7 linked regions of the Homo sapiens genome follow. The protein of the gene in region 2 purifies or fractionates together with the protein of the main gene of each other region. This does not show direct contact. Each region holds a gene or a part of one and is shown on either strand. Other genes may lie near its edges.

The links.
Region 1: the proteins of DUSP22 (region 2) and GAPVD1 purify together in Homo sapiens (affinity purification with mass spectrometry, with the first as the bait; one large-scale study listed by BioGRID). This does not show direct contact.
Region 3: the proteins of DUSP22 (region 2) and GNA14 purify together in Homo sapiens (affinity purification with mass spectrometry; 2 studies listed by BioGRID and IntAct, with this or other methods). This does not show direct contact.
Region 4: the proteins of DUSP22 (region 2) and MOSPD1 purify together in Homo sapiens (affinity purification with mass spectrometry, with the first as the bait; one large-scale study listed by BioGRID). This does not show direct contact.
Region 5: the proteins of DUSP22 (region 2) and SVIP purify together in Homo sapiens (affinity purification with mass spectrometry; 2 studies listed by BioGRID and IntAct, with this or other methods). This does not show direct contact.
Region 6: the proteins of DUSP22 (region 2) and C12orf75 purify together in Homo sapiens (affinity purification with mass spectrometry; 2 studies listed by BioGRID and IntAct, with this or other methods). This does not show direct contact.
Region 7: the proteins of DUSP22 (region 2) and RAB5A purify together in Homo sapiens (affinity purification with mass spectrometry, with the first as the bait; one large-scale study listed by BioGRID). This does not show direct contact.

Annotation. Positions count from the first base shown.
Region 1 is NC_000009.12:125,362,491-125,365,564, reverse strand, and holds part of GAPVD1 (GTPase-activating protein and VPS9 domain-containing protein 1), read right to left. Parts: intron 2,960-3,074; coding exon 2,819-2,959; 3' UTR 1-2,818. UniProt on the Homo sapiens protein: Acts both as a GTPase-activating protein (GAP) and a guanine nucleotide exchange factor (GEF), and participates in various processes such as endocytosis, insulin receptor internalization or LC2A4/GLUT4 trafficking.
Region 2 is NC_000006.12:347,469-351,601, reverse strand, and holds the end of DUSP22 (dual specificity protein phosphatase 22), read right to left. Parts: intron 3,500-4,133; coding exon 3,328-3,499; intron 2,834-3,327; coding exon 2,651-2,833; 3' UTR 781-2,650; coding exon of another isoform or gene 734-780; 3' UTR 247-733; downstream 1-246. UniProt on the Homo sapiens protein: Dual specificity phosphatase; can dephosphorylate both phosphotyrosine and phosphoserine or phosphothreonine residues. Activates the JNK signaling pathway.
Region 3 is NC_000009.12:77,645,330-77,650,047, forward strand, and holds the start of GNA14 (guanine nucleotide-binding protein subunit alpha-14), read right to left. Parts: upstream 2,994-4,718; 5' UTR 2,465-2,993; coding exon 2,341-2,464; intron 1-2,340. UniProt on the Homo sapiens protein: Guanine nucleotide-binding proteins (G proteins) are involved as modulators or transducers in various transmembrane signaling systems.
Region 4 is NC_000023.11:134,894,310-134,898,442, forward strand, and holds part of MOSPD1 (motile sperm domain-containing protein 1), read right to left. Parts: intron 2,726-4,133; coding exon 2,508-2,725; intron 1-2,507. UniProt on the Homo sapiens protein: Plays a role in differentiation and/or proliferation of mesenchymal stem cells. Proposed to be involved in epithelial-to-mesenchymal transition (EMT).
Region 5 is NC_000011.10:22,819,352-22,823,484, reverse strand, and holds part of SVIP (small VCP/p97-interacting protein), read left to right. Parts: intron 1-351; coding exon 352-366; coding exon of another isoform or gene 367-373; 3' UTR 374-3,148; coding exon of another isoform or gene 3,149-3,169; 3' UTR 3,170-4,133. UniProt on the Homo sapiens protein: Negative regulator of the ER-associated degradation pathway (ERAD) of misfolded proteins. It competes with AMFR/gp78 for binding VCP/p97, and inhibits AMFR/gp78-VCP/p97 complex formation that is required for degradation of ERAD substrates.
Region 6 is NC_000012.12:105,347,234-105,351,366, forward strand, and holds part of C12orf75 (overexpressed in colon carcinoma 1 protein), read left to right. Parts: intron 1-1,368; coding exon 1,369-1,393; intron 1,394-4,133.
Region 7 is NC_000003.12:19,953,553-19,957,685, reverse strand, and holds part of RAB5A (ras-related protein Rab-5A), read right to left. Parts: intron 1-4,133. UniProt on the Homo sapiens protein: The small GTPases Rab are key regulators of intracellular membrane trafficking, from the formation of transport vesicles to their fusion with membranes.

The sequences.
Region 1 (3,074 bases), on a different chromosome or scaffold from region 2:
ACCTGATTTTTCTTTTCCTCAGAGAAGTTAATCCTACAAGATTTCAGGGGACCTGAGCCAACTCTCTCTCCATTTAACATCCACTTTATAAATTCTATGTAGTAACTAGTGGCTGCTGAATGTTTCCTGGGCTGATTTTGTACTTTTACACTAATCTTTCATGTAAAGAAAGTACTGGAAGGCAGTGGAGGAAGAAACATTTGGGGAACAACTATTCCTCTTTTCTATTAAAAAAAAAAAAAAAAATCAAATCACTCCCCATCTCACATACCTGTCAAGAAATCAAACAGTGATGGTTAATGCCAAAGTAGTCCTTGCTCCTGACAGATTTTCAGAGGAAACCTTAGCTGCCCCTGCAACAGCTGTGCTGTGCTCCTCCGCCAGCTATGGAGTCATGAGCACCCGAACCCATTTCACAGGTGTCACAGATGTCAAATCTCTGGGGGGTCTACCCTCAGCCCCGGCTCCAACACAGCACAGCCCTATCTCCTGCCTCCAGTGTAGCCCTTCACCCCAATCCCACCACCTTCTCTTCCACAGAAAAGAGCCCCGATGCAATGTCCACATCTTCATATTTATTTCCACAGTGTTAACATGGAATAGACTTAGCAACCATTGCAGAGAAAAAAAAAATCTCTCATTGGTTTATGAGTTAAATCCTGTAACAATGAATTTCAACCATTCGAAGTCTTCTGCTGCTTAACATTTACTGAATCAAAGGCTGAAGTAAATGGACTCTCATCTAGGTCTCAGAAATCACACAGCTGGCCTCGTGATGTATTTACGATGGGATTTAACTTCTAATACAAGGCAAGTTTGACAGTTACAGCCAATGAAGTGCACGACTCTGTACATGGATTTCTTGACCTAACATTCAAAAGGACATTTCATAGTACTAGTTTAATTCTGATCTCTCTCTAGAAGGCAGAAACCACATCCCACACTCCTATGCAATTTGTTATTTTGGTATTGTAAAGTAAATGAATAAGAAGGGGTGGAGGCATAAAGAAAATCTAGTTTCTGGCTGGGCAGGGTGGTTCACGCTTGTAATCCCGCACTTTGGGAGGCCAAGGCGGGTGGATCACGAGGTCAGGAGATTGAGGATCATCCTGGCCAACATGGTGAAACCCCGTTTCTACTAAAAATACAAAAATTAGCCGGGCTTGGTGACATGCGCCTGTAGTCCTAGCTACTCGCGAGGCTGAGGCAGGGGAATCACTTGAACTGGGAGGTGGAGGTTGCAGTGAGCCAAGATCGCACCATTGCACTCCAGCCTGGGCAACAGGGTGAGACTCTGTCTCAAAAAAATAAAATAAAATAAAATAAAAACAAAGAAAAAAAAATAAAATCTTTAGGCATTCCCAGACACAAAGATCTCAGAGACAGACAACAGAGAGCCTCCGTGTTCATCTGCCCGAGGCTGTTTGTCACAGTTCCCTTAAAAGATGCCTGGAAATGCTCCCAACAACAAGGGACTCAAGTATGGGGCTGAGTTTGTTAAAAAAGCAGCTAAATGTGTTTAGGAAACACACGAAGTGAAACCAGACAGTGATGGCCCATGTACAAGACTTGTGCTTGAAGCTTTGGTGTGCCTCCATGGCCAATTTTTCAGGCACCAAAACCCATTCCTGATTAATTATTGATATACAATGCAAACCAAACTATGAAAACACAGACTTTTTTTCAGAAGAGGGAAATAAAGGCACAGAAACCTGCCAAAATAGATATTTTTTTCCATAAGAATAGTATGGTTGATTAAAATAGTTTATCACTAGTAAAACTTGTATCACTAGAGCAGACAATACAAATTAGTTTTTTAAAAAATGACATTCACTGAATTCTTGGTCTGTGCATTCAATGTGAATAATCATCAAAAATATATTACAATTAAAGGTTTGTAAGGAGCTCTGTCTGGGATTTCTGCAGTATATTATTTCGGAGGAGAAGAACCACCATAAAGTATGAGCTATCCACTGTTCCTTTTTATGTCATGTATGGTAATCAGTCTATCTCCTAATGCAGGCTCACAAACTTCCACGGTGAGATGTCTAAGTGACTTAGTGACCTTCACACTCATTAAAGGCAGCCCTGTCCATCAAACTCCATACCTAGAAAGTTCAATAAACTGTATTACATTTTAATAAATATTTCTGTGTACTTTTTGTTTTTTGCTTTTAAGCTCAGCTTAAATTTTGTCAAGGAAACCATTTCACAAGACAGTATGTCACAGCCTACTATCAGCAATAGTCCTTGTTTATTAGAATCTGCAGATGTCCATATTACATCAAATATAAATATATATTATATTTACATTTCCTTCTTAGCTTTCAATTTAGGTGAGTGTATTTATAGATAATGCCACTAACGCACCACTATTCTAATCCTCAGTGCAACTCATACCTTCTTTCCATTAGATGCTCATTAATGTAAGACAGCATCTTAAAAGAGGGGTACTGTTCTTTTTTAAAATAAAAGGAAAGAAAGGGAATCCAAGAATGGAGGTCTAGACATTTCCTAAGAGATTTTTGTTTTGTTTTTTATACTTAGAAATACTTGAAAAATGTGGTCCCTTTTTGTAGTACTAGTCTCTACTTGGGGACAAGAAAATAGAATATGCAACTCAGAAAGGAAAGAGCCCAAAGACGAGAGAACCTGCTTGTTAGCTCATTAACCTGTTTAGTAAAGATCTGCTTTAAAATGCCTGATGCTGTGCAGTATCATACAAAACAATCTTCAGCCTTCAAAGCAGCTGATGCACCTTCTCAGAGATCTGTTTGTCTGATTAACAGTCTGCTGCCTTGGTGGGCCTTGGTCTTGGTCACTTTCGGTCATCGATGGTTTTAATGAATTCTACTGCTGCTGTGAACTGCATCCACCAATAGGACTCCTCTCCAGACAGACAGCTAGCATAAAAGCTACTGATATACTGCACAGTAGACAGCAAACAGGGTGGATTTGCCTAGAGAAGTGAAAAATAAAAAAGAATCAATTACTCAGATGTCATAGCTCTGCCAAAATCATTTAAGTGTTCTTCGAATGTTCTTCTATGAAAGACATACCAATCCTTTTGAAAA
Region 2 (4,133 bases):
CGTGCAGGCAAAACAGAACTAACTCTCATGTCCACATTTCCTTCGCCTCACACTCATGGCCTATTTTTCTTTCTTGGAGACATGAATTCACCTTTTGTAGCATCTGCTATAGCGCCTTCTGGAGGCAAACAATAGCCTCTAAAATAAAACCAGGAGTAGGCTTCAGTCTTGCCTTGGAATCCCTCACAGGCAGAAGGGCGCGTGGTGACTGCCCCTTGGCTAGGGAAGAATGCATCGCACGCGACCTTAAACTTGGCTAAGTTGCCCTTTATTAACGAAAACATAGAGCTTTCGGTCAATTCCACCACGGAGAACACAAACCAGAGATAAAACCCACACCAAGGGCTATTTCCCAAGCTGGGGAATTTGAGAACACACGGGCAGAGTTCACGCCACACAACTACACTGGGCTCGTCCTTGGGAGGCGTTCACAGGAAGCAATCACGAGCGCCAAGCCACCCACAAGGCAGTGCGGCAAGGCTCCCGGGATCCTTACAGGCATCCAAGCGAGGTACAGAAACCTCCACAGCAGTGGGGATAAGGGGAAAATATTTTCTCTTGCTAAAGAATATCCTTAGTTCTCAACATAAACATGACTACGTATATATTCAGCTTCAAATGAAAAACAAGTTTACAAATCACTACTGGATACTTAAACTCTATGTTGCTTTTCTTTTTGGCAGCACCAGCCTAAACTCTGTGGGTTTGCAATATTTCAGAAACTTCAGGTACATTACAGTCTTCTGAGAAAGGCCCAGAACTTCAGAATTCCCGGAGCGGCTGTGAAGAAAGAACATTACTGGCAACAAATATTAAAACAACATTTCAAGAACTCCAAGAATACACTGAGAGGTTTGTAAAGGTGCACATATTTAAGCATTCAAGCTATATCCTAAATCATTTTTCTGTTAACGTATTTATTTTTGGCTTAGGAAAAACATGTACTTTATTGGCAAATTGTTTTAGCTGTAGACGGATGGATGATTCTACAGCCACACTCCCCTTTCCGGGTGTACATCCGGGGCCTGTGCACCTGCGCGGAATCAGGCAACTTTGTTTTTCCCGGTCCCCAAAAAGCTCACCTTTGACACACCCTCTATATGCACAGGAAAACTGCTCTTCTTATTCAGGGTCTCTTTTTGTGGTGGAATTCAGAGAAACTGGGTTGCAACATCTTTTTAGGGAGAGGTCGAGTATGTTTTTTCATTCGAGTGACTCTGCATGCTTAAGGAATCTGAGTCGGTATAAAGGACTAGACCACTGAATTGCGTACAGCGTCCCAGGATGCCTGCAGCCCCAGAGTACAAACTGTAGATGCTCTCGTGGCCTGAATGTGGAATTTTACCCACCAGAAAGCATTACTGGAGCCCAAACTGGCAACTTTAAATAGCTCAATGATATCGGTACCTTCCCCTTTGGTTTCAAAAGCAATCATGACCGAACATTTTCAACTGTGAGGCAAAGCTGACTTGCATACCAAAAAACACCTTTCCAAAAACATTCAATGAGGTAGCTCAGATCAATTATCAAACCCAAGTGAATACCAAGAAGCTTAATAAATGCTCAGGCATTTTAAAATGCAAATTGCTACAGTGCCTAATAAATGCTCTTTCTTCCCAATTCTTGCAGGTGCATGCAAATGTTGAGGAGGAGCCCCTGCAAAGTGAGGACAGCGAGAGGCTGGGAGTGAATGAAGCTGGCAAGGAGCAGAGAGGAGGGGGTGCCCTGGGGCACCCAACTTAGGCTAAAGTGCGCCTGCCCACCACAGAGCTCAAGTGCAATCAGCTCCAGAGAACAAACACCAAGTAGAACTCAGGGCTCGATGGGCTGAAAAGTGGCCTTGACTCAAGGCGCTAGGGAACCCTCAGCCTGGTGCATTCACATTGAGATGGAGGCAATCTAAGATACTTCCCTTAAATGCTGAGTTGGTATAAAGTGCTGGCCCACTGGACCAGCTCAGGGCAGTCTCTCACGTTTTCCAGGGCCCCAGAGCCACCCTCCCTCTAGAGGAGTCTGGCCCCTGTTGCCCCCACCACACCACCCTGGGTGGGTTCTGGGAGAGGCCATGCTCTTAGCCACTCGTCCCCTGAGTTCTCACGGTCTGCTCAGAGGCACAGACTGCTCTTTGCTGGGTAGCTTTTCGGAGGTCGAGCTCAAATGCCTTCCATGTGGAGTCTTGGACAAAGGGAAAGGTGGCCACACCAACCCGGGCAGCAATATGAATTCTGTGACTTCCAGCAGTAAGAAAGAGTTCACACACACACAAACATTCATGTGCACAGACACTTTCACAACATACACACATGTACACACTTAGGTGCACATACCCTCACTCACACAGGCACACACATGCATCCACTTAGTCACCCACACACAAGTGCACTCACACACACGCACGTGCACAGAGCAGTGCACAGCCACTGGGCAACATCCCCAGGGGCAGCAAGCTCAGGTGCAGCCAGGGTAGGGGTGGGCGGAGTGCAGGGGCCTGGAGCAGGGCTGGGCGGTGTTGCTTGGGGGAAGGAGCCCTCGCCCCACCTCGCCCTGGCTATCTCCCTTTCCTGTCCTCATCGGCCACCACCACCGCACCCCTGCCCAGCCGGGCACACTGAAGACAAGCAGTGGGAAGGAAGGCAGCAGGTCGCTTGCGTTAGGTCTCCGTCGTATAATTATCGTAGGTCAGCGGAGCCAGTGCCGGAAAACTGCTCCACCGCCTGGCGCCGGGCTGGGGCTCTGTGCGCCCTTGCTCCTTATATTTACCCAGAATGTTTTTGGCTTCTTCTGCATCCTGCAAAGGGCTCTCTCCATATTCTTCCTTCAGCCACTGCCGATACTGGAGAGGATGGAAACAAACCCGAAACGTCACACACATGTGCACGTCTGCATCCACGTGGGCTTGCACCTGTGACTTCACCACAGAGATGGTGCCACACATAACCAGGGAAACAAACAGCAGTGGGAAATCAGAGCTCTGTGGTTGGCCAGCCAGGGTCAAGCAAGAGAAGGAACTGCTCCTTCAAGGTGCTGGCCTAGGACATGAAAATAGGCCAGACCAAGGAAATGGTACGTCACCCAAAGGGAGAGAAACAAACTAGTAGGGAGTACCAGGCACAAGGAGAATGACAAAGGGTAGGCGCCTGTGGCTTCAACAGGTGCACGAGGGATCGTGACGACTTCTGAAGGGGTGCAGCTGGGCGCCCTGGGAGCCGATGTCCTCTGTGGGCCTTTCAACTCCAAACGCCATGATGCTGGCTGTGTACGGAAAGACTGTGGGCACCGTTCAGGGGCACCTGCCTGCATCTCTGATGTCCCCTAAGAACTGCTTACCTGATGGACCTCATGCTTCTCAAACTCCTGGAGCTGTCTCTGGAAGCCCACGTTGGGGTTGGCACAGGATCTCCCAGCACGCACGGTGTGCAGGGCATCCTCCCAGCCAAAGTCAGTGACGGTCATGATGTATGCGATCACCAGTGTCACGCTCCTGGAGACCCCGGCCAGGCTGCGGGGCCAAGAGAAGCACATGTGTGAGGGCAGTTTCAGATCTCCGGGTTCATCGCCCAATCCATGTGGAGCGGGGGACTCTAAGGACCTTGTTCAGAAAGTCTTCCTGCCTTGGATTATATGTGGACAGCAAGCTCGCCACCAGGAAGCCACTCAGCACTCAACGTACCAGCTCCCTATGCTTCCTGGCACTAGAATCGCATGCTTTCTTCTGCTGTTTGAGCTTCTTTTATTGGTTTTCTATGGGCTGTGGCTCCAGATGCTCCCTTGCTCCTCAGCCCCTCCTCAGGTCTTTCCCATTTCCCCGGACAAACGACATAACTGAGGTACTCCAAGGAAACGAGGCTTCCAGGGCCTACGCGACAAACCCATTTATAACCTACATTTGTTTAGAATGCTTCATGTTCCTTAAAAGTCGAGTTTTCTCAGCTATATGAGGGCTAGATCTATAATTTTTAAAGCCCATGATGTAGAGAAGCCCTTACCCAATCTTACTTTTGTACTCTTCCTGACATAAATATGCAGAGTACAGAGCAGGCACACTGTGTCCGCAGGGTGGGAGCAAGGCACCCTTGCAGGCAGTAACGGTTAGGGTCAGTTACCTGGAGCAGGCTGAGTGAGACCCGTTTTAC
Region 3 (4,718 bases), on a different chromosome or scaffold from region 2:
GCACATCCTCCCCTAATTCCTGTCACTTCTGAGTCATTGGCTCTTCCTTGAGAAGAAATGGAGCTATGCCCCAGGACTTTACAGATTGAAATAAATCAGAGGTTTTGAAGTCCATCCTTGGAGTTCTGAACGGCTCTGTGTGGTTTAGAAACTATTTTTCACAGGAAAGTTTTCACTAAGGGGATATGCTAGTCACAACTCCGCAAGATGAAAATGGGAGTTTCCAGAGGTCAGACAGTGCCTCAAGGTGGTAGGAGGAGGGTTGGAGCAATGGCCTGGGAAGATAAAGAAGACCCTCGGGTCACCCTGATTAATGTGACTTTCAGAGCAAACAATTTACCTACAAACATTTCTCCCCTAGTTTGTGGGTAAATGCGAGAATTTTACATCAAACAGGCTTATTACCAATACAGTACAGCTCAGCTGACTACACAATTTTTCATACAAAGAGCCAGCATTTGTCAAGCTCCTGGTATATTCTGGACACTGTACTTCATACATTGACACAAATCAAAGCATTGCAAAATGAAATAGGGTTCAGCCTGCCCTTATAAAGAAAAAAGTTACATACGCAACTAAACCCCTCTGGTTTGTGGGGTTCAGGGCAAAAGTACAAAGCCCCGCACCCATAGTTATTTTCTAGTGTTAATCAAGCTAGCAAATTCTCACGTATTCCTCCTCCCTTGACAAAGGTAGCTTTATAACAGCCTAGAAGGCCAGGGACAATTTAGAATTTTCAGACTTTTCAAAGTTATGGGTCAGACACAGAAATAGCAGACCTGGCCAATGAACAGAGCCCCTTCCCTTCCCCACCCAAGCTCCCTCTCTCCTAGGGGGGCCTCTTGGGCACCCACGGGGACTCCCTCCACTCCTACCCAGCCCACATTTCCAAGCACTTTTACGCCCCAGCAAACAGCTGCCCCTTTGTGAGCTCTCCAGGGATCAGGTCTGCCTTCTTTTCTAGGGCTCAGGCCTTAGAAGCTGGTATGGGTCCCTTTGGGCTGGGTATTCATTCCATCCAGGTCTTGGGAGGGAGGGGGCAGCATGGTCTCTGGGTAGCAAGCCCCTTTGGACCTACAGACTTCCAGCTCTGTGGGGAGGGGCACACCCCCCCCCAACCCCCAGAAGGCCAGACTGGGCCCTTTAAACCCAGGGGATAAGGATAAGGGGGTTCTTCCGCCCAGGTCTGAAGGCCATACTGGCTGAGAGCCTTCTCTATATTACACTAACTAGATCAACTTTTTCTTTCCTTGAAGCTTTCTGGGAGGGTGATTCCTATACAAGGAATAAAGATGAATAAATAGATGGTATAAGAGAAGATTCCTGTTCAAAAGGGGTGAAAGAAAAAAAGTTGAAATCTTTGTGGCTATCTAGAAAAAAATTGACAGCTGATATCATGGTCTGAAAGGTAGAAAAGGTAAAATATTCCTCAAACAGCAAATGTGTTGACAGCGTTCTAGAAAGTCTGAGATGGGATCCTTGCCTCATGGCATAACTTGGGCAAACCTTAAACTGTGTTCTTTCTGTGTTTGAAAGTGGATGTCCTACCCAGACCTTTGCAGAGACACCAAAAGAGCTGGATGAAGACCTGCCAGAGGCACCAGGGCAGCCAAGCTGAATCCTAGGACGTGGACACACTGAGTCAAGCTGGGCAAGGGAGGTTTGGGTCCGCTGCAAACACAAAGGCCTGAGGGACCCCCATGGGAGGCAGGCATAGGAGCTCACGGTCAGAGGAGCAGCAACGGCATGGGCTTCACCCCCACAGCTGACCTAGCATCGGCTTTGCCTTTTCTCAATCAGGGCAAGTTGGTCAGTTCTCCAGGCCTCCATGTTTTAATTCTCTAGAATAGCGATATCACCTGCCCGCATCACCAGGTGGTGATGCCCTTAAGAACTTAGCACGATCTGGCACATGGTAAATTCTCAAGATGCTTCATCTAGAACTGAAAGCGTACGGGTCAGAGCTAGCGCTGAACCCAAGATGTGGGTCACCACAGACCCCAAGCTGGGTGTGCTGCGGGCGGAGGAGTGGACGGGGTTTTGAGGAGAGGGGCACACCGGAACACATAAGGTACAGCGGTCAAGAGGTTAAGTGTTACAGGTCCCTATCCTGTTTTGGGGCAGGGGAAGGTGTTGCTTTTGCAAGTCGCCCAGCCAGAGATGGAAAGAACAGGCACCTAAGGCCCCAAGTTGCTGGCATCCGTGAGCTCCGAGGGGGAGAAGGACGAAGCCGCCCTGCACCCCGCTGGGCTCCAGGGCCGCGCGGGTGCCAGTGGAGAGGCCGGGAGGGCTCGGAAGAAAAACGCCCGGCTCACTGGAGTCGGAGACGCAGCCACTCACCCAGCAGCAGCAGCTTAAGCTCACGGCGCGCGTCCTTCTTGTCCCGACGAAGCTGTCGCTCGATCTCCGCGCTGATGCGCTGCGACTCCTTCTCCTCCGCGGACAGGCAGCAGCAGCCGGCCATGGTGCGCTCAGCTCAGTACCCGACGGGGCGACGCGGCCCCGGGCACCCGAATCCTCGGCCCGGCCGCTCACCCGGCCAGCATGCGACGGGCACAGGGGTGTGGAAAGAAAAGACGGGGGCCGACTTGAGCTTTGGAGTAAGACGCCTGGACCTCCGAGGCTCAATCCCCCTTCGAAAGTCGGCTCTGAGGCGGGGTGAATGCCGAGCGCTGGGAACGCTCGAGTGCACCCCGGATCCGGGCTCAGCCCGCCCCACTCTCGCTCTGGGGAGGAGGAGGGCGAGTCGAGAAGTTGGGAGCGTTGCTGGCCCCGGGAAGATGCGCGCGCCCCTTGGCACAGGAGCCGGACAGCAGTCGGGGGCGCAGACGAGTTGGAACGTCGGTGCTCGGGGGAGAGTAGGATCTCCTGGGCCTAGGGGTGTCCCCAGGCGGGAGGTAGGCGCGGAGTGGGTTGGAGGCAAAGGACCTGGCTGGCCTTTGCCTGGAAAGTTCTGAAAACCTCAGCAGTGACCGCAGACTAAGACTGAGTGGAAAGGTTCCCGCTAGCGTTTGTGGCTCTAAGTGGCAGGAGGAGGCGGAGCATCTTGAACCTGCAGCCCTGGCGTCTGCTGGACTTGCCCTTCTGGGCACCCCAAGCCGAAGGCGCCTGGAAGTGAAAGGGGACGAGCAGGGGGCGCGGAGCTGGGGGTGGGAGCTGGCACCTCTAGGAGCAGCTCCCACACTTGCCTCCCTGGCTGGGGCGTCCCGGCCAAGGTTTGCTGTAATCTGCGCGTCTGGCCGCCAGGCACCGGGTTCCGACAGGTGAGTGAGTTTCGCCAACTCACTCGCTCGGAGAAGGCGGCAGCAGGCTGGAAGAGGAGCGGCGCCAAGCGTCTGTTGCGGGACACAAAGCCCCGGACCTGAAGTGGAAGCTTGCCCACCAGCTTCACCACCACGCACACCCGGATTTCCTAGACTGGCTCCTTCCGCTTCCCGGACGCCCCGGCCCAGCTCGGGCTTGGCCAAAGCCCTTGGTCAGCTCGGCAATTTGCCTGTAAAGTGTGGCTGGGCCTGAGCCTGCTGGCTCTGAGCTCGGAGAAGGAGCCGCCGCTGGGTTCAGTTATAAGAGAACTGCAAGAGCCCAGGGTAAATATCCTCTCGGTCTCCGGACGAGGGGGCTGGGGAGAAAGGGAACGGCTGATTGCTTTGCATTTTATGATGGGAAAGACACCTGCTTTGTAGAAAGGGCTGATACGTTCCTAGTAGCACCTGGCAAGTTTCCTGCCCAGCCCTGAAGCCTAACAGCCGCCTTGCGATTGTGTCCGCACTGACACCTTGGCCTGTATCCTGGACCGTCGGGGTCAAGTTTGAGCAGCATTAATAAAAACTTTAAAAGCACCTCTTAGTACTTAAGTGACACGATAAAATGCATATTACAACATCTGACTTTTGTCTGTGTAGATTTTGATGCAGAAAAGGGAAGGTGGGGAGAGGGGATCCTATTGGCCACAGCAATGAACGTTCTTTCCTTCTCAAGTCAGTATAGGCCATATGCTAATGGGGCGTTAGGCAATTAGCTAGCGCTTCCTCTACTAAGAGCAGGCATAAGTGCCTTTCATTTGAGTAGCATATATTTTATAAATTCAAACTGAGGAGCACATTGAGTGGAATGGTACGTGTCATTATATAAAGAAGTTGGTATCGCGATGCTATCTGGCTGCATGTTCTTATTATTTTACAGTTTAAGAAATGTAGAGGAATCAGACATTAAAAATGTGCATACATGCTTTAATGTGTGACTATTTTAGTTTTCTTGCAGGCATAAATTGACAGTAACAGTGACCCCTACAGGAAAACTCCTGGACATTTCAGATTTGATCTTTGGCCATTTAATAGCCTGTTTCTTCTCTCTTAGCTCTTACGGATTCATTTACAATTTGAGAATAAGATCTCTTGGCTTCTCAAAGTCATGGTTGCATCATAATTGTTATCATTTAAAAATTATAAAAAATTTTTAAATGATTAAAACTAGGGCAAATTTGAACTCTTACGTTAACGGGAATTACTGATACTGACCTATTAGGTTTAAAGTTGGCAAGATTTCAAAAACAGTTATGAAACATATTGATTAGGGCAAATCTGTACAACTTTCCTGGGCTAGTCAGCTTGGCAGTATATATCTGAAGCCTTAAACATGTCCGTCCCCTTCGGCCAAACCAGTAATTTCTCCCTTAAGAAATAACTAGAAAGAAGCCTCATGACTGATGCAAAGGTTTT
Region 4 (4,133 bases), on a different chromosome or scaffold from region 2:
TGAAGCCATCAACCATTTTCCTGCTAAAAGTGAGTCTCACAACACTGCTGCACCTCTAATACTTTAATAATACGCATTTGTTGAAATATTCTCTAAGCTAAGGACTTGTAAAAGTAATGACATTTCAAAGCCTCCCCAAAACAATCTCAATTAATTTTCAACATTTTAGTTCAGAAAAACTTAAAAACCTGAGTTTTCCACATGTTGGAAACTACACATAAATTCCTGTAAATTTAATAGACAGGAGACTAAATCAGTCATCATGATACTCTATTAAAGAAGAAAACTTTACTCAACTTACTTCCAGGTAATTAGGCACATTGGGGTAACTACCCATAAACGGGACATGTTGGCCAGGACTGTGAATGGGGCTCTGCTGTGGTATCACCTTTCCTCTAAACAGCTGTCATAGCCATGAAAACCTTGTAAGCCAAAACAAAACAAAACAAAAAAACCATTCCCACAGACCCTCACCAGACCTGAAGTCCAGCCTTCCTAGCTCAGCCCATTTACAAGTTCATTATGTAACTTCTCTGTGCCAGGCCCTGTGCTAGGTGCTGAGGATATAAAATTACTAGGAAAAGTGCCTGCCTTCATTGAGCTTCCTTACAGGAATGGATTAGATAATTTTTTCCCTCAAAACAGAGATCACCATGTGTTATGCTAGCATCACCTATCCTCATTCATCTGCCTACTCCAATTTTACTATTAGAAAAATTCTTTAATATACTTTAGATACCAAGGTTTGTTAGAAAACTAAAATAAGGCCAGGTGCGGGAGCTCAGGCCTGTAATCCCAGTACTTTAGGAGGCTGAGGCAGGAGGATTGCTTGAGGCTAGGTAAGACGAGCCTGGGCAACATAGCGAGACCCTGGGTGTGGTGACGAGCACCTGTAGTCCCAGCTACTCGGGAGGCTGAGGCAGGAGGATTACTTGAATCCAGGAGTTGGAGGCTGCAGAGAACTATGATGGCACCACTGCACTCTAGCCTGGGCGATAGAGAGAAACCCTTTCTCAAAAAATAAAAAATAAAATAAGACAATACATACTTTAATTATTTAGCCTTTTTAGCATGATCTTCACCTGAATTTTAATAAATTTAAAAATAAAAGGAATAAAGTTCTCCTTACATATATTTACATACACATATACCCCTAAATCTTACTCCTTATTATTCTTGGTTATTAAACCAATCTGTTAAATACAAAACTGAACTTCAAAGACCATTTTAAATTACAAGTGTAACTTCAAAAAACAAATACAAATTAAATGGCCTTCTTTGTACTAGAGGAAGTATTTTAAAAAGGGAATCTTGCATTTCATAACTATGTTAACTTTACAATATTGATCTGATAAAGTGACACTGGACAAAGGTTCTCTTTCAGCTTCAAAAGATGAAAAGCTGGTCCTGTCAGTTGATAATAGTTGCTGAGAATAAAACAATCCACTATAGGTTGGTGCAAAAGTAATTGCGGATTTTGCAATTAAAAGTAATGGCAAAAATCGCAATTGCTTTTGCACCAACCTAATAGCTACTACCTAGTCACTAGTCCTGGTATTACCAGAAAATCTAGATGGTCCCTAATGGACTAGGAAAAAACTCTTGGCTACAGTAAATCAAAGAGGCACTACTCCCTGTTATTGAAATGAACATCCTAAAACAAACAAACTGATACGACTGAATGTAACAGCAAGTAGATTTTTTTTAATCCTTCATAAAATGTTGCAATTTCAAGGACAGCTGCTATCATATTCATGTACCAGTATCACCATCAAAAAGTTTCCAGTTTCCCTGGTTTTCTATGGAAAATTTTATCATCCTCCTATTACAACAGGTTTAGGAGGAGATAATGAGAAGTTAAGAAGACGGGATAATGACGTCCAAAGAGTTGAATATGAGGGTAGTGTCAATGTTGAAAGAATATATCATAACACTTCTGAATATCTAAGCTGGAAGGAAATGAGGGCTGGAGAGGGATTCAATTAATAGCCCACAGGGGATATCATAATCTACTTAGTTTAATTAACTTCAACTTTAATGAGATTTTTTTTTTTTTCAAAATAATATGAACAGTGCACTAAGCTTGGCCTATTGCCAAACACAATCTCTCTCTTCCTTGGAACTAATTAAATGAGAAAGGATATAGGAAAGTCATGGAAACAAAAGTATAGGAACTGCCAAATTGTACTAGCTTCATAAAGTATGGTGCCTGCAGTCTTAGATATATTTATGTTTATGTTTAAATACAGATATATTTAAAAGGCTACAGCAACATCTACCCGCTCCTTACAGCCTGGTCCAGTGAGGGGTATTCCCTCCTCTCAAAGTCCACCTCCAGGCTTCTTGTTCTACTTCAGGTACCTGATTCTCTAGGTGCAGTTTTGAAGTAGTTGACCATGTTTGAAGTGGTAGATGATTTTTCTAGTAATTATTCTTAGCTGCCTGATTATTTTAAAGTTAATAATGTGTAAGACCTCAAAAGGGCTTTAAAAACAACCCAAAACTACCTGGTTGAAACGACTGCTCAAAAAATAAACTTTCAGTTAAATGTTCCTTTAATCTTTTTTCCTCTTCTTCCTTTTGTTGTTCTTTTGCTGATGGGAGAAGAGTAGCAACAACCTCTTTTCTTCCCAAAGCCTTCCTTTGGCTTTGCTCGGAAACTTGGAGACGGAATTTGTCTATTACACCATAGTGACAGGATCGAACATCTCGATGACGAATCACACTGAAAACAGCAAAAATAACAAATGCTGTTTAGATTTCTGGGGGCCGGCCAAACAGAAGGCAGTGAGATATTTTAATATATTAAACAATATTAACTGACTACAACCAAATACTCAAAAACAGAAATTTGCTAAGATGTTAAAAAATCACAGTATAACCCAAAAGAAATGAGTAATTCGGAAACATTGGATGAAAGCACATAATCTAAAACACAGAATAAAAGTCTTAAGCAAAAAAATAACAGGTAAAGAAAATTCCTTTTTGGTCAGGCGCAGTGGCTCACACCTGTAATCCCAGCACTTTGGGAGGTTGGGGCCTGGAGTTTGAGACCAGCCTATGCAACACAGAGACCCCGTCTCTACAAAAAAAATTAAAAATTAACTGGCTTGCTGGTGTGCGTGTAGTCCTAGCTACTTGGGAGGCTGAGGTAGGAAGATCCCTTAAGCCCAAGAGGTTGAGGCTGCACTAAGCTATGATCGCTGCCATAGCAAGAGAGCAAGACTCTGTCTTATTAAAAAAAAAAAAAAAAAAAAAAGAAAGAAAAAAAATTCTCTTTAGCAATCACATTTTTTTTTTTTCTGGATAACTCAGTGCAGCAACATTTACTAAATAGGAATACATGCAATTGTTTATTCCCCACAAACATCTCATAAATTTCTATTGCTACTTACTTATTGTTTAGGCAACAAACCTCGCCCTACACTTAAAATTGAATTCCATGTATGCAGGTAGAAACAAGCAATCAAATAAGTAAGTAATCCACTATTACCAGTGCAACAGAAGGCCAATAATACACCTCTACTTCTCTAAAGAGAAAAGAGTATACAGCACTGTAATTTTATTTTATTTTTTGAGACGGAGTTTCACTTTTGTTGCCCAGGCTGGAGCGCAATGGTGTGGTCTCGGCTCACTGCAACCTCTGCCTCCTGGGTTCAAGTGATTCTCCTGCCTCAGCCTCCCAAGTAGCTGGGATTACAGGCACCTGTCACCACGCCCAGCTATTTTTTTTTTTAATTTTTATTTTTAGTAGAGACGGGGTTTCACCATGTTGGCCAGGCTGGTCTTGAACTCCTGACCTCAGGTGATCCTCCCACCTCAGCCTCCCAAAGTGCTGGGATTACAGGCGTGAGCCACTGCACCCAGCCAAACACTGTAATTCTTATGGGTTTTCTGCAATTCCATTTATTTTATTTTGTTCGTACTAGGGAACACAAAACAATTAGGTCAAAGTAACACATTTATTTGGCAAGAGACTACATTTCTTTGTAATAGCTCTTGCTTACTGTGTACTGAATGAAAATTTTTAAAAATGTGCAAAAACGTTCTCAAAGATACATCATTTTATGGCTTTGAGCTGGTGAAAAAGTATTCAAAAGAAAAGAATTCTGCTTCTCATTCTCACAGAAGAT
Region 5 (4,133 bases), on a different chromosome or scaffold from region 2:
ACTGGAACAGAACTTGAGCTGTCCTTGGCCATTCATTTGCTATCCCAGGATGTTACATTCCCAGCACATTCTACAGTTACTCTTGAAAACTACAGGCAAGACAGTGAGACAGAGCTATCCTGCAACTACCCACCAATCTGACCAGATATTTTGTCTTCTTTATGCTTTTAAACTATCATCTTATTTCAGGCTTTGGACTATAATGTAAAATTTTATGAATAGCTGCTATTCAGAAAAATCATTTTGTATTTCTATGTCCCATATTCCTCTTTTTACCTGTTTGTTCACTGAAGTACTGTTATATAACTTCAAGTAAAATTTACTTTTCTGTCTCTTTTTTATCTTTTCTAGTGGACAGTTTCATAAAGCATAACATGAGTAGAAGAATCTACTGCCAATAACTGTTTATTATCTGCAATCAAGTGGGCTTCATCAATTTAATTTCTTCTCTTTGAGTAAATGAAGATTCAGACTTTGTAATATTATTGCCCTTAAGTGCAATGCTAAAAAAACGTTGATTTTCAAGCTTAGAGAATGGCTAGACTTTTCATTAAATACTGATTTTCCTACATTTGCTCTTCTGCAGTTAGTGGGTGATTTGCTATTTTTCTTAGTAGTTAAAAAATGGAACTAAATAGTGAATATACATACACTGCATGTAAACATTCTGCATATACCTCTAAGATTAAAATTCGCAGTTGTCTTTTCATCCTTTATAAAATGATCTAACTACTTATATTTGTGCTGCATCGCGTTACATCTGTTTTTATTTCACTATGAAGATGTTTGATTAAACTTATGGACTTAGTGCCTTTAAACTGATCATCAGGGAGAATCTTGAAAAAATCATTTGAAGGGCTGATGTGAAGGAGCACTGTAAATTTTTATAACTTAGTAATGAGTATTCTTAGGCAGATGTAAAATTTTTTCCAATTTATTTTTATTTATGTAGCTTATAAAATTAACATACCCTGTTTTACTTTATGATAAAGGATTTTTTGTTTGCTGAATTTAAAATTATATATTAGTGATACCATCAGAGGGCAGTGATGTTCTATTGTATATTAAATTCAGCTCTGTAAGGATCTTTGTAGTAATTGAATGAGTTAAACTAATAATCTGGATGGGTTATAATGAGTAGTAATATATTTGTCCATATTTCATAAGTAGTGTTAATCTTGTGTACTTATTAGAGAACGATCATAAGATTTATACAGATGTGAAACTGCGAAGGCAAGTATGAATGTATGAAAAAAACATGTAGGTACTGTACTTACAAAAGGTCTACTTCAGATATAAAAATATTAGGTAATTCTATACAATGCATAGTCATAAACCTTAACATTTTTGTTCATTAGAAACATGAATTTTATAGCATTTTTTGTTTCTCCTATATAATACACTGAAATAAAAGAATTTGTGTTAGCTATTAAGGCTGATAGCTCTTTTAAATGGCAAGGCCACATGTTGAGCCCTAAATTAAAATTTGCAGATATTAAGTGCTAATAGAAATTTTAAGTTAAATCGACCAAGTTCACTTGCTTTACACAAAGGAAACTGAGCCACTATCTTCATCTACCCCTCCAACAAAAATTATGTTATACTGCAGTGTATTGTACATGTTAATTTTTAAAAGTTTGAACTATTATATAATACAGGTCTCTTGACTTCTCATGGAAAAATTATTTTTTCTATTATGGTGTGAAATATTGTGTGAATATCTAGGCAAAACATAACAATTTGGCTCAATTTTCTTCTTTAGAGGATTCGTGCTGTTTTTGTTCATAAAGGGTAGTGAAATCATTGAACTATATTTTAGAATGAAAATTTTTGATTTTATTAAAATGATTTTTTCAAGGCAGAAAGTAAAAGGAATGATTGATAGCGGAGTGCATATAGAGCTAGAGCATATCATCCTTGAACTCTGCAAATCCTTTCTTCCATTTTAATATAGCAAGAACAATTTTGTCTTTACTACATCTTAAAGAATTAGAACTTGGGTTGGTGTAAGTGACTTACTTCCAGGGAATCATGCCCTATTTCTACCAGCAGGTCATACCCAAATGTCACACTATCTATTGTTAACCATGAATGATATTCAGATCTATTACTTTTCGTGAAAAGTGGAACATGTTACTTCCAACCATGGCCTGTCACCGTGAGTGTGATCAGCTTTCTCCAAAACCACATGGGTCGCAGGAGCTAAGGGGTGGTACCCAAATGTTAGGAACAGTGTTAGGAAAGGGCAAGGGAAAAGAAGTGACTGGATGTCTTATGAGAAACCGGTAAATGACTAAAAAAAAAAGCAAATGACTAAAAACATGACTAAAAAATTATATATATATATAATATATATATTATATATGTGTGTATATATATACACATAATATCTGCAAATTCTAATTTATATATGTGTGTGTATATACACACACACACATGCACATACACACATACGTCCAGACATCTCCCTCATAAAATAACCATCAGTTTCTATGAAAACCTTAAGTGGAAGCCAATTTCCCATAGTAAATAATTTAGGAGAAAATTATAATGCTTAAAATGTTGCTCAAACCCCTGACCTATTACTAAACTATAATTGGAACAGTAAAATGCATATATGTAACTATCATATCATGATTTAAAATTGCTTAAACCATTGCTGCTTAATACTAATCAAACTTAACGGCTGCTAACAAAAGTTGTGAATTATTACACGGCCTCTTTGTAACGTGCTGCATGTTTTTTAAAACATCTCTGTGTTTCTGTTTGTTCCACTGCTGGTATTTGGAATGTAATTTAACAGTTCTCACACATGGTTTGGTTATAAATTCTGTATTGCCTTTTAGGGATATAAATATACATTTTTTTCTATGTAAAAATTAGCTTTAGCTGTCTCTTTAACAAAATTTTATCTTTACTACATCCTAAATACTTAGAACCTGAGTTGGTGGTTAGGGAAACCTCAGGAACATTTTAATCACATTGGGATTCAGAAGAGCAACAGAACCAAAGGTTGTTTGGTGTGTTCATACAATCCCTGGATTTATAGGTGGATTTTCTATAAAGGAAAAATGATGTAATTAGTATCCTGTTTTTTCCTAAAGAAATAATACTATCATAAAAATTCTGTCTATCCTTTGTACCCCAGGAAAATGGACATGAACTTTGAATTTTCCCTTTCTCCAAATGTTTGACTTTTTATTTTCACTGATAAGCATTATGCTATGTTCTTAGAAGACAAAAGCAGCTCTTGCCAGTTTTGAATAATTTCTGCATGAATAGACCAGTAAGAGGTAAGTAGCCATGACTGCCTATATGTGTTGAGACATAAGGTATATTTCTTTAACATCTCCAAGCAAGCATTTCAAATTCTCTTAACTACTAAACATGCTCTAAGCTAATTCAAATATAGTATTGTGGCTTTTTTCTTCAATTTTCTCAAAAGCTACAGACACAAGGCATTTGTATGTATAACAGACTTTGATGAAGTTTTGGTTCCAGTAACTCAAAACACTAAGTTTCCCATTTGATATGGCTTTTTATTGTTCTAGTCTCCCTCTTCTAGTTATGCTTCATCTTGCAAATATTGACTTTGAATGTGATAACTATTGCCTACAAATTAAGTATTCATACATTACTCCTGTGGATATCATACTTTTTTGTTATTATATCCTGAATTGCATTGGCTTTTTTTGGTTTTGTTTTGTTTTTTGAGATGGAGTTTCACTCTTGTTGCCCAGGTTGGAGTGCAATGGCACAATCTCAGCTCACCGCAACCTCTGCCTCCCAGGTTCAAGTGATTCTCCTGCCTCAGCCTCCCTAGTAGCTGGGATTGCAGGCATGTGCCACCACGCCTGACTAATTTTGTGTTTTTAGTAGAGACAGGGTTTCTCCACGTTGGTCAGGCTGGTCTCGAACTCCTGACCTCAGGTGATCCCTGCCGCCTTGGCCTCCCAAAGTGCTGGGATTACAGGCATGAGCCACCGCGCCCGGCCTGCATTGGCTATATTTATAATACCAAATTTGTGTTGAGTTTTGAGTTAATGTCTTCTAGTTATCAAAACAGGTTTGATCCATTCTTTGCAAGTACCTCTAACTTATCTCAAGTGGAACTAATTAGTTTTGCACACAGA
Region 6 (4,133 bases), on a different chromosome or scaffold from region 2:
GTATTAGGGTTCTCCAGAGGGAGAGAACTAATAGGATAGATGAATGTATGAAGGGGAATTTATTAAGGAGGACTGACTCACATGATCATTAGGTGAAGTTTCACAATAGGCCGTCTGCAAGCTGAGGGGCAAGGAAGCCAGTCCGAGTCCCAGAACCTCAAAAGTAGGGAAGTCAACAGTGCAGTCTTCAGTCTATAGCTGAAGGCCCATGAGCCCCTGGCAAACTACTGGTCTAAGTCCAAGAGTCTGAAAGCTGAAGAACATGGAGTCCGATATTCGAGGGCAGGAAGCATCCAGCATGGGAGACAGATGAAGGCCAGAAAGCTCAGCAAGTCTGCTCTTTCCACCTTCTTCTGCCTGCTTTATTCTAGCTGTGCTGATAGCTGATTAGATGGGGCCCACCCAGATTAAGTGTGGGTCTGCCTCTCCCAGTCCACTGACTCAAATGTTAATCTCCTTTGTCAGCACCCTCACAGACACAGCCAGGAATAATACTTTGCATTCTTCAGTTCAATCAAGTAGACGCTCAGTATTAACCATCACAGATGGGAAGCCAATGGGAGCAGAGTTAGAGATGCATGTGACTCTTTTTGGAGCTAGGCTGGTGTGTTTGAGGCTTCCTAATTAATTTAGTCCATTGCTTGCATTAGCGCACAGTTTGACTTAACCTGCCGTGCAGACACCAACTTAAAAGGTGTATGGCTTAAAAAAGAAAATGTTTCTCGAAGTCTACCAGTTTTAAAATTCATAAAATGTGAGGTTGGATTAATGTGATCTGTAAAATCTTTTTCAGAACTGGCACCTTGTAATTTACAGGAACTGTTAAAGATGGGTGGAATAGATTCCAAAGCTAAGATTTGAAACTTAAACTAAATTTGAAATTTAAGATTGGAATTTGAGGCCCGGTGCAGTGGCTCATGCCTGTAATCCTAGCACTTTGGGCAATCAAGGTGGGAGGATTGCTTAAGCCCAGGAGTTGGAGAGCAGCCTGGGCAACATGGTGAAACCCCATCTCAAGAAAAAATACAAAAATTAACCAGGCATGGTGGTATGCACCTGTATTCCGAGCTACTCAGGAGGCTGAGGTGTGAGGATCACTTGAGCCCAGGAGGCAGAGGTTGCAGTGAGCCGAGATTGCATCACTGCACTCCAGCTTGGGCAACGAAGTGAGACTGTATCTGAAACAAAAAAAAAAAAAAAAAAAGATTTGAATTTTATGATTTTTTTGCCCTCCTTTCTCTGTTTTTGAAAATTTTTTTAAACCCATTTTCTCTTCAGGAATATTACTGTATTTTAATTAGGTATTAGACAACATTTTTGTAGCAATACTATCACACCAATACAAACCTATCTTCTTTTTTTCTCTAGGCCCTGCAGGAGCAGCCAAAGATGTGTAAGTATTGAATATTAATGATTTTATAAGCTGTCTTTCTGAGGAAGTTGCTGTTTTTCATGATTATGACCTTTAGATCTCTGTGGGTATGGCTGAAAAGACATGGAAATACTTTGTGTATAATGCACATGTCAAGATGATCGTTGTAACTAAAGTGCTATTCAGAGAGGGTTCTTTGTGCTTTTCATTAGCTTTTCAGTTGCCTGGGCACTTTAACTCAGGATCTTAAGAAGGGGAAATGTTGAATTGTGTTTTCCATCCCAACTGGTATAGAGATTTTTTTTTTCTTTTAGTTAAAAGCAAGTGATTATAGGAGAAATAAGCATGTAGCTCCTATGACTACGCAGTGTTTTAGAGTTAGCTGGGGAGGAAAGGCTGGGGCCAAGCAGTTACCAAGTGTACATTGAATTGTTTTAAAGTTGATAACTAGATATTCGAATGAATATATAGGGCCATTCAACATAGTCACCATTGAGCTATCTTTAGAGCACAGGGCATTTAATAATGGGCATCTCCCTGTGGAGAGATCTGGAGCTCAGGAGCATTCAGGATTTCCATGCCCCTTCTCTCTGCATCCTCCTGCCTCTAATCTAGCTATAGCAAGGACACTACAGCAGTTCACTCTTTAAGAGTATTTCTGGTTACCCAGTGAAGGGTGGGATCAACTCTCCCACCCAAAACTGGGTTGGGTGTCAAGACTGATTCACCACATCTCAGGAGGGTGTGGAAAGATGTATTGCTCACATGAGGCTTTCTGGGGAGAGCAGGGCAGCCATCCAAACGGGTCTAGTTTTTATTTTGGTTGGAGAGTGGGCTGGGGTGAGGCTACTTATGAATGGGCAGAGGTTTGATCTTCCTGCTGGCACAGGGAAGAAGTGCCCCCACTTTCTTATTGGCTTACACAGATGTGGGGCAAAAGGGGAGTGATGGGGCTCAAAAGCCTTCAATGGTCAAATACCAAAAATAGGGCCAGGTATGGTGGCGCATGCCTGTAATCCCAGCACTTTGGGAGGCTGAGGCGGGTGGATCACTTGAGGTCAGGAGTTCAAGACCAACCTGGCCAACATGGTGAAACCCTGTCTCTACTAAAAATACAAAAAATTAGCCAGGCATGGTGGTGGGCCCCTGTAATCCCAGCTACTTGGGAGGCTGAGGCAGGAGGATTGCTTGAACTGGGAAGGTGGAGGTTGCAGTGAGCCGAGATCACACCACTGCACTCCAGCCTGGGTGACAGAGCCAGACTCTGTCTCAAAAAAAAGAAAAAAAAGAGTCAGACTTTCTTATTTCTTATTACAAAGAATTTAGAGAAGATGAGAATGGGATTGTAAAGCTTTCTGGGAATTAAATATTTAAATATGCATTTTAAAATTAGGACTTTAGATACAAAGGAAGCAGTAATTGATGGCTTCTAGCTCCTGTTTGCTGTGTTGGAGTTTATTACGTAAACATTTAGCAACAGTGAATACTGCACCCTGACCGTATTCCTATTATTGCAATATTTTGGTTTCTCCTTCAGTCTCTCCCTTCAATTTCTATATGTGTTGCCAGATTAATTTTCCTCAAGCACTGCCCTGCACTTGCATAGGACCTCTGCTCAAAACCTTTCAATTATTCCCATCGTCCTCTGGACTGAACCCAGGATTTATTAGGAATAGGAAGAGCATTTATGTTTTAGCCTCAAACCGACTGGCTCGCATGGCGTGGGAGGAGATGCTACAGTGGAGAGTGAGCAGAGCCCAGGGCTGGGAGGGCTGTGCAGAGCTTCTTCAGGCCACTGTTCTCAGGGGCTTCTGCGACCTCATGCTTCTTGCTCCTGTCCTTGTGTTTTGCTGTGCCCACTGCCTGGAGTGGCCCTTTCCCTTTCCCTTTCTGTTTATAGAAATGACATCTGTTCTGTAGGGCATGTGTGTTATCCTTTGTGAGAAGTATTTCCTGGCTCTCTGAGCTGCATAGTGTGTCTTTCTCCTCAGAACCTTCACAGCATTTTGGACCTTTCTTGTGGGGCATCGTGTTGGGTTTATATCGTAGTTCTTCATGTTCTTGTCTTTTTTCCCTTGAGGATTGAGAGTGGGGCAATACCTTACCCATTTTATTGTGCTCTAGAGTTATTCATGTCATGCTTTGATCATAGTTTGTGTTGAATAAATAGTTGTTGAATCAGTTCCATCATTGCTTTTCAAGGACAGAGTGATTTCATGACATCTTTCTTTTTCTAATAAAATTTAGTGATGATTTTGTCAACAGAATTAACCGTTCCAGGATGCGAGATGCCATTTAACTACTTAACTATTTCACTATTTAGAATCCTGAATTCTTCAGATTTCCCTTGACTATACCTCATTCTATGTCCTATAACTTTAAAATAAAGTAATTTATTAAATAAATGACCTTTTAAAAACAAATGCAGTGGATTTACCTGGAAAAAGTTAAAGAACATTATAATATTACTTTTCCTTACACAAAAGGTATATTCAGGCACGTTCAATTTTTTAAGTGGAAGCTATAGATTTATAAATCTTGACTGTAATATTAGGTGATGCCATGAATGAATGACGAGCTAAGAAATTAAGATGACACTTAATTTTTTTATTATGCACATTAAAATTTTTTTTTAAAATCTAAACAGACTGATTCCCAAACCAGAAGGATTGGCCAAAATAGTAGAATAAGTACTGAGAGTAAAGAACTTAGAATAGGGCAAACACAATATTATGCAGACCACAGGAAAGTCTTTGTGGGA
Region 7 (4,133 bases), on a different chromosome or scaffold from region 2:
TATCTCAGCTCACTGCAACCTCCGCGACAGAGTCTCACTCTGTTGCTCAGGCTGGAATGCAGTGGCGCTATCTGGGCTCACTGCAACCTCTGCCTCCCAGGTTCAAGCAATACTCATGCCTCAGCCTCCCGAGTAGCTGGAATTACAGGCATGCGCGACCACGCCCAGCTAATGTTTGCTTTTTTTTTTTTTTTTAGTAAGGATGGGGTTTGGCCATGTTGGCCAGGCTGGTCTCAAGCGATCTGACCACTTTGGCCTCCCAAAGTGTTGGGATTACAGGCATGAGCCATGCACCCGGCACTTACTATTTTTTAATGGTGAGGACATTTAAGAATTTAGCAGTTTTCAAGTACACATTATTAAGTAGTTACTGGAAAAAACTTTAATATATGCACACGTGTAGTACTTTAGCCCTGTAATTTCTCCCTCTGAGAAACTTCCACAAATAACACAGTTGGGCTGGGCACAGTGGCTTACACCTTTCATCCCAGCACCTTGGGAGGCTGAGGTGGGAGGACTGCTGTAGCCCAGGAGTTTGAGACCAGCTTAGGCACCAACAGTGAGATCTGTCCCTACAAAAAAATAAAAAATTAGCCAAGTGTGGGGTGCATGCCTATAGTCAGTCCCAGCTACCTGGGAGGACCACTTGAGGCCACGTCAAGGCTGCAGTGAGCTTTGATGCCACCACTGTACACCAGCCTGGGCAACAGAGCAGGCTGTTTAAAAAAAAAAAAAAAAAGGAAAAAAAACACAAAATTTTTCAAATCTTCAAATTTTCTAAATCAAACGCTATGCACTAGGTGTAACAGCTACCATCTCAAGATAATAGTATGTCATGACCAAACAACAAAAATATCAACAATGACAAAACGATTCAGCCAAAAGTTAACAGTGGTGATGGTAACTGTAATAGCTATAATTTAATAAACCTTTTACTGTGCCAGGCATTGTGGTAAAAACTTCAATCTGGATACAGTCTCTCTTAACCACAATAGTTTATTCTTTAGAATGACTTGGCCATAAATTGTTAGGTAAAATAGTATGTTAATAATAACTTTGAAATAAGCCTTGTTTTTCTTCATTTTAACAGTAACTTTTATTCCTGTTACAGGTTGTTTTAGACTAAAAACAACTAGTTGGCCATGCTAACCAATTTAGATGGATGTTAAATATGTAAGTAGAAACAGCACTTCACTTAAGAGTTAATAATTGCACTAAATTTCCTTTTTTTTGAGACGGAGTCTCGCCCTGTCGCCCAGGCTGGAGTGCAATGGCGCGATCTCGGCTCACTGCAACCTCCGCTTCCTGGGTTCAAATGTTTCTCCTGCCTCAGCATCCTGAGTAGCTGGGGTTATAGGCACCCACCACCACGCCTAGCTAATTCTGGTATTTTTACCATGTTGGCCAGGCTGGTCTCGAACTCCTGACCTCGTGATCTGCCAGTGTGCTGGCACCCTCCCAAAGTGCTGGGATTACAGGCATGAGCCACTGCGCCCGGCCTACACTAAATTTCTTAATTAATTTTGTGTATTATCAGGCCTTGATCATTTGTGACAAGAAAGGAGAGCAGCAGTGGTACAGATGACTGAAAACTATGGGTACTCCCTAAGTAGAGAAAAAGCAGAATACTCTTGATTGGACAGAGGGATCATACTTTCCTAAAGATGTCTGGCAGGTGGCTAACAGGAAGGCATTCTCCTATAAAGAGATACAGATAACATGTAATGTGAGCAGTACATAATACATGTAATTCTCAAACTAGGTTAGTTGCATGAACAATTTTTTTTTTAAGACGGAGTCTCGCTGAGACACCCAGGCTGGAGTGCAATGGCATGATCTCGGCTCATTGCAACAACCTCCTCCGCCTCCTGGGTTCAAGCGAATCTCCTGCCTCAGCCTCCCAAGTAGCTGGGACTACAGGCGCACGCCACCATGCCTGGCTAATTTTTGTATTTTTAGCAGAGACAGGGTTTCATCACATTGGCAAGCTGGTCTCGAACTCCTGACCTCGTGATCCGCCCGCCTCAGCCTCCCAAAGTGTTGGGATTACAGGTATGAGCTACCGCGCCCAGTCAACAATGTTTTTAAAAATCTGACAAACACCACACCTCAAAAAAACCCCCCAATTATTCCATGTATGGGTGAATCAATGTTAGTACCAATGTAAAATCAACTACTCAAACGTAACATGCCATTAGAATCATCTGGAAAACTTATTAAAACCTAGATTGTTGGTCCCACCCAAATGTTTTGATTCAACACGGGATTCTACATTTTAACAAGTTCCTAGTTAATGCAGCTACTTCTGGAAGTGGGAACGCTCTTTGAGGACCACTGTTCTAAGCTAATGTACAAAAATCACAGAACCAGCAAGAGGAATGTTATTTTCATGTACAGTTCCATCATCTAAACTTTAGAGTTTATAACACATTTTTTGATTAGTGCATACAAAATTGTAACTGTGGTATGAAGCACTTTTCTCAGAAGAGAAAAAAAGGATTGTCTGCTTGCTATTTCACTGCATATTCTAACCACTGAGGATTAATTTGTTTATAAATATCACATAAATGTCTTCTTAAAAATAAGTATTTTTTGAGAGTATTTACTGAAGAGCTACCAAGCCTAGAGATGCAGTACCAAGTAAAGAAGGAAGACAACTCTCTGAGCCTACTGCTCCCTGCTAATCTCTGGGCTAACTTTAGACCAACAATAGAAACATAAATGTCATGCAAACTTTAAACCCATACAAACAAGCTAGAATTCTCTAAATTGCTAAATCTACGGCACGCAATTTCATCAGAAGTGCTATAGGGGTAGGATGCATGAAGTATGGTGAGGCAACAGGGATTCTTTGTTTTGTTTTGTTTTTGAGACAGGGTTCTCACTGTCACCCAGGCTGGAGTGTGGTGGTGCAGTCTCGGCTCACTGTAACCTCCGCCTCTTCAGTTCAAGCAATTCTCCCATTTCAGCCTTCTCAGTAGCTGGGACTACAGGTGTGTGCCACCATGCCCGGTTAATTTTCGTATTTTTTGTAAAGACGGGGTTTTGCTATGTTGGCCAGGCTGGTCTCAAACTCCTGGACTCAAGCGATCTGCCCACCTCAGCTTCCCAAAGTGCTGGGATTACAGATGCAAGCCACCGCACACAGCGCAACAGGAATTCGTAAATCAAGTTATTGTATTTAGGAAGAACCACACAAATTACAGAAGAAATCTTGATATTCTTAATGAATCCAGAATCCACAAATCAAGAGTGTAACATATGATATCCACCTTCGAACACAATCAAATAGAGATTAAAATTTTGAGTGCTTCAGAACAATAACTCATGTTAGGAGATATAAACAGTAAAGTGAAAAATTAAACAGTTGAGGCCAGGCGTGGAGGTTCACGCCTATAATTCCAGCACTTTGGGAGGCCGAGGCAGGTGGATCACTTGAGGTCAGGAGTCTGAGACCAGCCTGGCCAAGATGGCAAAACCCTGTCTCTACTAAAAATACAAAAGTTCACTGGGATTGGTGGTGTGGGCCTGTAATCCCAGCTACTCAGGAGGCTGAGGCAGGAGAACTGCCTGAACCTGGGAAGTAGAGGTTGCAGTCAACCTAGATCACACCACTGCACTCCAACCTGGGCCACGTAGTGAAATTCCGTCTCAAAAAAAATAAACCAACAGTTGAAATGCAAAAGAGTTGGTTGGCTTCATTTTTCAGGTAACTTCTACCACATGACAGTCAAAACAAAAATACGTATTACCTACAAGTTATGGCCCTTTCAGGTTGATCATGAAATAGCTCAAACCTTAAAATTCTTAAATGCTTTACATCTACTCTAGTTCCTAAAGGTGAAGAGCTATGAGTACAGAGCATAAAAGAATAGTGTCCACAGCTATAACCATAATGGTACTGTCATACCTCCTGAATAGTATTCACATGGGGTCAGCACAGTGAAAAAGTATCCAATAAAGATTAACAGAAAGTTGGGCCAGGGGCAGTGGCTCATGCCTGTAATCCCAGCACTTGGAGAGCCCGAGGTAGGCAGATCACTTGAGGCCAGGAGTTCAAGACCAACCCGACCGACATGGTGAAACCCCATCTCTACTAAAAATACAAAAATTGGCCAGGAGTGGTGGCTTGC